Linked DNA regions of Homo sapiens. The protein of the gene in region 1 interacts with the protein of each later gene in a pairwise test. Each region holds a gene or a part of one and is shown on either strand. Other genes may lie near its edges.

Region 1 (3,817 bases):
ATGATAGACTGGATAAAGAAAATGTGGTACATATACACCACAGAATACCATGCAGTCATAAAAAAGAATGAGATCATGGCCTTTGCAGGGACATGGATGGAGCTAGATGCCATTATACTTAGCAAACTAATGCAGGAACAGAAAACCAAATACCGCATTTTCTCACTTATAAGTGGGAGCTAAATGATGAGAACACATGGACACACAGAGGCGAACAACACACACAGGGGCCTATCAGAGGGTGAAGAAGGAGGGGAGGGAGAGGATCAGAAAAAATAACTAATGGGTACTAGGCTTAACACCTGCGTGACAAAATAATCGTACAACAAACCCCTATGACACAAGTTTACCTATGTAAAAACCTGCACAGGTACCCCCAAACTTAAAATAAAAGTTAAAAAAAAAAGTGCTGATGCAATTCCTCTTCCTCAAAATAAAAATATAGAAGTTTAGAAATTTATTAAGAATGAGTAAATGGTTAGACATATTATCAGTAAAAACAATCAATAACCAGGAATAAAATCACTTCATATGACTATTTTCACCTTCAAAGTAAAATCTGTGTAGAAGACAGACTTCTTTCCTGAGTTAAATTTTAAAATTTAGTTAATAACTGTCATTTATACCGAAGAGGAAATTTTGAATTTGTAATTCCAAAAAAATAATGAAAAATGATAATTTGTAAAAATTATCAGTATTCTTATTATTTTAAAGAAATAAAGATAATACACTTGACAGAAAATTCAACTAAGACAGCAGAAAACATCAGACAATGAGGAAAAAAGACCATTTCTTACAAAACAAAATTTCAAGGTGGCAACTTAAAAGAAGTAATGGCTACTCACCGCACTAATGTTTTGTTGAGTTGTCTTAATTCTCTGAATTTCAGGAGTATCTGCTATGGTAGAATAGTTAGAAAGCATCTTCTCTGCTTCATCTTTATACTTTCTCTAAAAACATAAACAGTTAATATAAATCTGAAACTATGTGTGTGCGCACATGTGAGAGGGAGGGAGGGAGGCAGGAAAGGAGGAAGGGAGAGAGAGAGAGTAAAAAACTGTTTTTACTGACTTACACTCCCAGAGAGAGAGAGAGAGAGGTGGAGAGACAGAGATAGAATGATACCATTCTTCGATCTCTACCATACGACATGGCTTCTAGATTTACGCTTTGCTTCCTACTTCATGTGAAGATAGATTTGATTAAGGGAAAGTTAACAGTATTTTGAAGTTGAGATTAAAATCTTAATTTTCTCTCCACTAAATGAGCTACTATGAGCTCTAATACAACCCAGGCAATATCTTATCCTAGTACCAGCACTTACATTGTACTTACTATGTAATGGGTATTGTTCTAAATACTTAACACACACTAACTCATTTAATCAACCTGACAAGCAGATACTATTATTATTTCCATCTTACAGATGGAGAAACTGAAGTACTAGATAGTAAGTATCAGAGCCTCAACTTAAAACCAGGCTCTCTGATTCCAAAATCAGTGAAGTTAATTATTCTGGCAAACTACTTAAGAAAATGTGGCACATATACACCATGGAATACTATGCAGCCATAAAAAATGATGAGTTCATGTCCTTTGTAGGGACATGGATGAAATTGGAAATCATCATTCTCAGTAAACTATTGCAAGAACAAAAAACCAAACACTGCATATTCTCACTCATAGGTGGGAATTGAACAATGAGAACACATGGACACAGGAAGGGGAACATCACACTCTGGGGACTGTTGTGGGGTAGGGGGAGGGGGGAGGGATAGCATTAGGAGATATACCTAATGCTAGATGACGAGTTAGTGGGTGCAGCGCACCAGCATAGCACATGTATACATATGTAACTAACCTGCACATTGTACACATGTACCCTGAAACTTAAAGTATAATAATAATAAAATTAAAAAAAAAGAAAGGTAACTACTATTCATGTTGAAATGCACCAGGCTTCATTACACCCTCGTAAGTATCCCAATTGTATTTCAGTGATTAAAATCCCTTAAAATTAGATATATTCTCACACCACACTAAAAAAAAATCTATGCTGTTGAGTTAATGCAGGAAATCTGACAGCTCAGGCACCTTCACTCTCAATACTTTTACTTTCAGGTGTATATATCATGGTTGTAATACTATATTTACATGATTATTAGATTTATCTGTAGCTTTCCAAGAGCAAAGCCATGTCTAGTTTTGCCTGCAAATGGGTGCTCAGGAGGTATTTACCTACTGAAGGAATGAATTTGGCATTCTTGAGAGAGTAAGTAACTCTTCTCCACTGACTCAAATGTCTATTTGTTGTTTAATGCATTGACTTAGGATTTTAGTTAAGCTGATATGGCCAAGCCAATGTCTCCAAGTTCACGAACACTGAGAACAGAACACACACTTCAGGATCATCCCAGCGGCTGTGTCGGCTGCGGAGGCTGAGAGGCACACAAGTCCTCTGACATTTGACTCTGCCATCTTGATACTACCCTTTTGAACTAGTGGATGGTTAATGTCCTTGCTTATGTCTTAATCAGAATTTTAACAAATTTCACCAAATGTTGTTACACAATCCTTTCTGCATAAACTCCATTAATCAAATTAAATGCTATGGTCAATTTTAAATAACCATTTTCATTTTTTTCATTCCTTCTATTTTTTTCCATTGGGAGTCATTCTTTTTTAGTAAATGTTACAGCAAAGATATTATTTGCTAATGAATGTTTTTGCCCAAGTCAGATTTTATAAATAAATTCTTCTTCCATAAATTTTTGTGGTCACTACTTCTCCCACATCCAGCTTTGTTTACAGAATATGGGACAAGTATATTTGACAAATCTAAATTTTACCAAGAAAACCTCACTGTTCCCTTAATTTTTACCTAACACTAAACTTCACTTTATACCTTGTGCAGCTTTAGCCACTGTTAGCTTTATTTGGAACTATTTTAATATTAATATTCATTATGAAATGGTTAAAAGACAAAACGTTTGTAATTTATTTTTCTGTAGTATTAGCAAAAGCATTTGAGCCAAGTGTCCAATAGGGTCAAAAAAAAAAAAAGAAAGAAAGAAAAGGTTAAAATATCCTTGGGCTGGGCACAATGGCTCATGCCCACTGAGGCAGGAAGATAAGCTTGAGCCCAGGAGTTTGAGGCTGCAGCAAGCTATGATGGTGCCACTGCATTCCAGCCTGGGTGAAAGAGTGAGACCTCCATCTCTAAAATTTAAAAAAAAAAAAAAAAAAAAAAAGGTTTAATGTCCTTGGACTCAAAACAAGGAGCCCCGACAGAGAGGCTGTAGCTCTCCATAATGTCTGTTGCATTGAATCTATGACTGTTGTCCTATTAATTAGTACGGTTAATCAAGTTTGGCCAATGGTTTCTTAGTGAAAGAGTACACTAGCTCTGAATGCAATGCCCTCAGAAAGATATCATTCATAGAGACATACAAAGCACATGGCAACATGACATTGGAATACACGATTCTGAGCATCTTCATTCATGACCAACCTGGCTATAGATTTCAGATGTCCTCTTGGCTCGAAGGATATCTGGGATATCCATGCTCACTTGCATTCCTTTCCCTTTAATTTCATTTTCTAAGTCCTTCTTGTATTGTTTCTAAAAGAACAGAAAATAATCTTAGAGCTTTGCTTAAGCTTTAATAGCGATGTTGAAATTTACATGTTTGAATCTCAAAGCCACCCATGTGGAAAGAAAACTTATGCTCTTTCCAGCTATGATTCACGGCATTTATTTTAAACTTTGTATCTTGCTGCTGTCTTACCTGGCTGGCCATCTCGGATGCTTTCTTAG
Region 2 (3,817 bases), on another chromosome or scaffold:
CTGCGGTGAGCCATGATTGTGCCACTGTACTCCAGCCTGGGTAACAGAGCAAGACCCGGTCTCAAAAACAAAAACAACAACAACAACAAAAATTTTTTAAAGGGGGAGTGAGATGGGAGAGAAGGGGGCCTTATTTCTCGGAAACCAGCCCTGCTGCCCTCTTCCCATGGCCACAGGAGCCTCCCCAGTGACGGAGTTGTGAGATTGGGGGTTTCTGGTGTCCTGACTTCCGTCCCAGGGATCACCTTGGGTTTCCCACGTTGCAGAGACTAACTGAAAGGACATGAGGGCTTTACCCTGGGAATGCTCTGCTGGGGCAGGTGGGTGTTAGCTGCGATTCTGTGTTATTTTCCCATCCTCAGAGGTCTGCGGGGTTTCCGAGAGGCTCGCCGGGATTTCTGGCGGGGGGCTGAGAGCCTGGAGGCTGCCCTGACCCACAACGCAGAGGTTCCCAGGCGCCGGGCCCAGGAGGCAGAAGAGGCAGGAGCTGCTTTGAGGACGGCTCGAGCTGGGTACCGGGGACGGGCACTGGATTATGCCCTGCAGGTGCCTGCCCCAATCTGTCTTCCTGGGGTACCAGAGCCTCAAGTGTCACCTCGAGGCTTGGGGGTCTCCAGTGTGCAGTGGGAAGGGGTGCTGTGTCTTCAAGACTGATCTGGGGTTTTTTACGTCCTCTTTTACGTCCTCAGATCAACGTGATTGAGGACAAGAGGAAGTTTGACATCATGGAGTTTGTGAGTTGTGGCGGGGGTGAGGGCAGGGTGGAGAAGAGCCTGCTGCCAGCACAAGGGAATGGGGAGAGGGGTTCTTCCTCAGCCTTCCCACTGCCCGCCTTGTCCCCCAGGTGCTGCGTTTGGTGGAGGCCCAGGCTACCCATTTCCAGCAGGGCCATGAGGAGCTGAGCCGGCTGTCCCAGTATCGAAAGGAGCTGGGCGCCCAGGTGGGGCCCCAGGGCACAGCAGGTGGTAGAGGGAGGTTAGGGACTCCTAACTGGGGGGCCTTGGACATCTGAGATGCCCTTCCTGTGCCCAGTTGCACCAGCTGGTCTTGAATTCAGCACGAGAGAAGAGGGACATGGAGCAGAGACACGTGCTGCTGAAACAGAAGGTGAGGGGCCAGGTGCGGTGGCCCACGACCGTCATCCCAACATGTTGGGAGGCTGAGGTGGGAAGATTGCTTGAGGCCTGGAGTTCAAGATTAGCCTAGGCATCGTAGTGAAACTCCATCTCTACAGAAAATTTTAAAATTAGCTGGTGTGGTGGCATGCACCTCTAGTTCTAGCTACTCAGGAGGCTGAGGTGGGAGGATTGCTTGAGCCCAGGAGTTCAAGACTGCAGTGAGCTATGATCACACAACTGCACTTAAGCCTGGGTGAAAGAACAAGACCCTGTCTCTAAAAATAAATTTTAAAAAGTATTTCAAAAAGCAGAAAGTAAGGGCTAGGGCTGTGGGCAGGAGGCAGATGCCTATGGCCTTGGTGTCTGCCCATCTCAGTTGCCCTTTGATCCTCTTGTGCCTCCAGGAGCTGGGTGGGGAGGAGCCAGAACCAAGCTTAAGAGAGGGGCCTGGTGGCCTGGTGATGGAAGGACATCTCTTCAAACGGGCCAGCAACGCATTTAAGACCTGGAGCAGGTGAGGAGAGGACACCCCCAATCAGCCCGCCCCACCCAATGATGTATTTTCGAGTGGTAATAGCACACTAAGCACTGCAAGGAAAAACAGACGAACCCCCCTGCCTCAGTAGAGTTTCATTCCATCAGCAAAGACAGAGGATAAACCTAGTATGTAAATTACGTGCTATGTTAGAAGGTGATAGTGCTTGCTATAGGAGAAAGATGATAAAGCAAGGGATGTGGGGAGCTGGGTAGGGGTTACAGTTCTAAATAGTTGGGCAGTGTGGGCTTCATGAGAAGGTAACTTTTGAACAAAGACTTGAAGGATATCTGGGGGAAGAAAGTTCTAGACAGAAGAAAGAGCCAGTGCCAAGGCCCTGAGATAGCTGGGGAGTTGGAAGAGCAGGGTGGTGGCCCTGGGTCTGGACAGAGTGAGGGAGGAGGATGTGCAGGAGATGAAATCGGAGCTAATGGGGGCATGAGTCATTATAGGGCCCTATAGATTTTTGTAGGGATTTGGGGTCTACTCTGAGAGCAATTGGGAGCCGCTATAGGGTTTGGAACAGGATGGTGGCATGCTGTGACTTGACTCCTTTCCCTTCTAGGGCCACTGCTAGCCCACATGGGATCTCTGTACAAATTAGAAAATGGAGCTGCTTCCCCAAGATACTCTTTTTTCTTTTTCTTTTCTTTTTTTTTTTCTGTTTTTTTTGAGATGGGGTGTCACTCTGTTGCCCAGCCTGCAGTGCAGTGGCGCAGTCTCGGCTCACTGCAACCTCTATCCCCTGAGTTCAAGTGATCCTCCCTCCTCAGCATCCTAAATAGCTGGGACCACAGGCGTGTGCCATCACGCTCGGCTAATTTTTGTATTTTTGGTAGAAACAGGGTTTCACCATGTTGCCCAGGCTGGTTGCAAACTCCTGACATCAAGCAATCCACCCGCCTCGGCCTCCCAACTTGCTGGGATTACAGGCGTGAGCCACTGTACCTGGCCCCCAAGATTCTTTCTTTTCTTTTTTTCTTTTTCTTTTTTTTTCTTTTTTGATGGAGCCTCGCTATGTTGCGCAGGCTGCAGCACAGTGGTGCGATCTCAGCTCACTGCAACCTCAGCTTCCTGGGTTCAAGCGATTCTCCTGCCTCAGCCTCCCAAGTAGGTGGGATTATAGCCGCCTGCCACCACGCCTGGCTAATTTTTGTATTTTTAGTAGAGACGGAGTTTCACCATATTGGTCAGGGTGGTCTCAAACTCCTGACCTCGGGTGATCCACCACCCCCATCAGCCTCCCAAAGTGCTGGGATTACAGGTGTGAGCCCAGCCTAAATAGTATTTTTTAAATTGTAGCAATAGACATTTTATTAGAAAAAGAATTTTACTGCCATCTGCTGGAAAGTTGTCTTCATAACTATATGAAATCTGGGTTGTCCAAGATAGGAATAGCATCCTTTAGATGTTCCAATCTGCACAATTGTCCACCCTTCTCTGGAATGTCTCGTGGAACAGTCAGCCCAGGTGTCTGTCCTCTCAGTAAGATCCTCATGGGCAAAAAGCACAGCCTCTCTTCCGTCCCTCATCCTAAAGCTGCCTATGTCTGTAATGATTTCCTTCTCTTACAGACGCTGGTTCACCATTCAGAGCAACCAACTGGTTTACCAGAAGAAGTACAAGGTGAGTGGACCTGGGTCCTGGATGCCTGGGCCCCAGGGAGACTCAGCTCTTGCCTGCAGCTGGACATCTGGCCCCTTATCACCTTATCCTGCCAGGACCCTGTGACTGTGGTGGTGGATGACCTTCGTCTCTGCACAGTGAAACTCTGCCCTGACTCAGAAAGGCGGTTCTGCTTTGAGGTGGTGTCCACCAGCAAGTGAGTGCAATCCCCAGGGGTGATACTCTAATATATCTAAACAACTGCCAATCTGAAAGGCAGGGCCCACCACAATGGAGGCCCCCCATGCAGCTCCAGACTTTAATTTAATTCTTTGGCGGCTGGACTGGGGGGCCATTGTGGAAGAGGGTACAGGGTGATGGGGGATATTTAGGAGAATATTACCAACTGGTACAGAAGTCTTTCAATGCAACTGGAACTGGTTGAATACTGGCTGAATGTCAGTCTGCCCATGCTGCCACTTTGCTTCCCAGGCCTCAGACCCCTCTGCCATCTCCCTCACCCTCCTACCTAGGTCCTGCCTCCTCCAGGCTGACTCAG

The links.
Region 2: the proteins of NEBL (region 1) and ACAP1 interact in binary tests that used the Homo sapiens proteins (3 or more experiments, as listed by UniProt).

The regions. Positions count from the first base shown.
Region 1 is NC_000010.11:20,827,685-20,831,501, forward strand, and holds part of NEBL (nebulette), read right to left. Parts: coding exon 3,789-3,817; intron 3,623-3,788; coding exon 3,512-3,622; intron 951-3,511; coding exon 846-950; intron 1-845. UniProt on the Homo sapiens protein: Binds to actin and plays an important role in the assembly of the Z-disk. May functionally link sarcomeric actin to the desmin intermediate filaments in the heart muscle sarcomeres.
Region 2 is NC_000017.11:7,343,017-7,346,833, forward strand, and holds part of ACAP1 (arf-GAP with coiled-coil, ANK repeat and PH domain-containing protein 1), read left to right. Parts: intron 1-362; coding exon 363-546; intron 547-689; coding exon 690-734; intron 735-844; coding exon 845-940; intron 941-1,032; coding exon 1,033-1,107; intron 1,108-1,522; coding exon 1,523-1,632; intron 1,633-3,227; coding exon 3,228-3,279; intron 3,280-3,374; coding exon 3,375-3,475; intron 3,476-3,791; coding exon 3,792-3,817. UniProt on the Homo sapiens protein: GTPase-activating protein (GAP) for ADP ribosylation factor 6 (ARF6) required for clathrin-dependent export of proteins from recycling endosomes to trans-Golgi network and cell surface.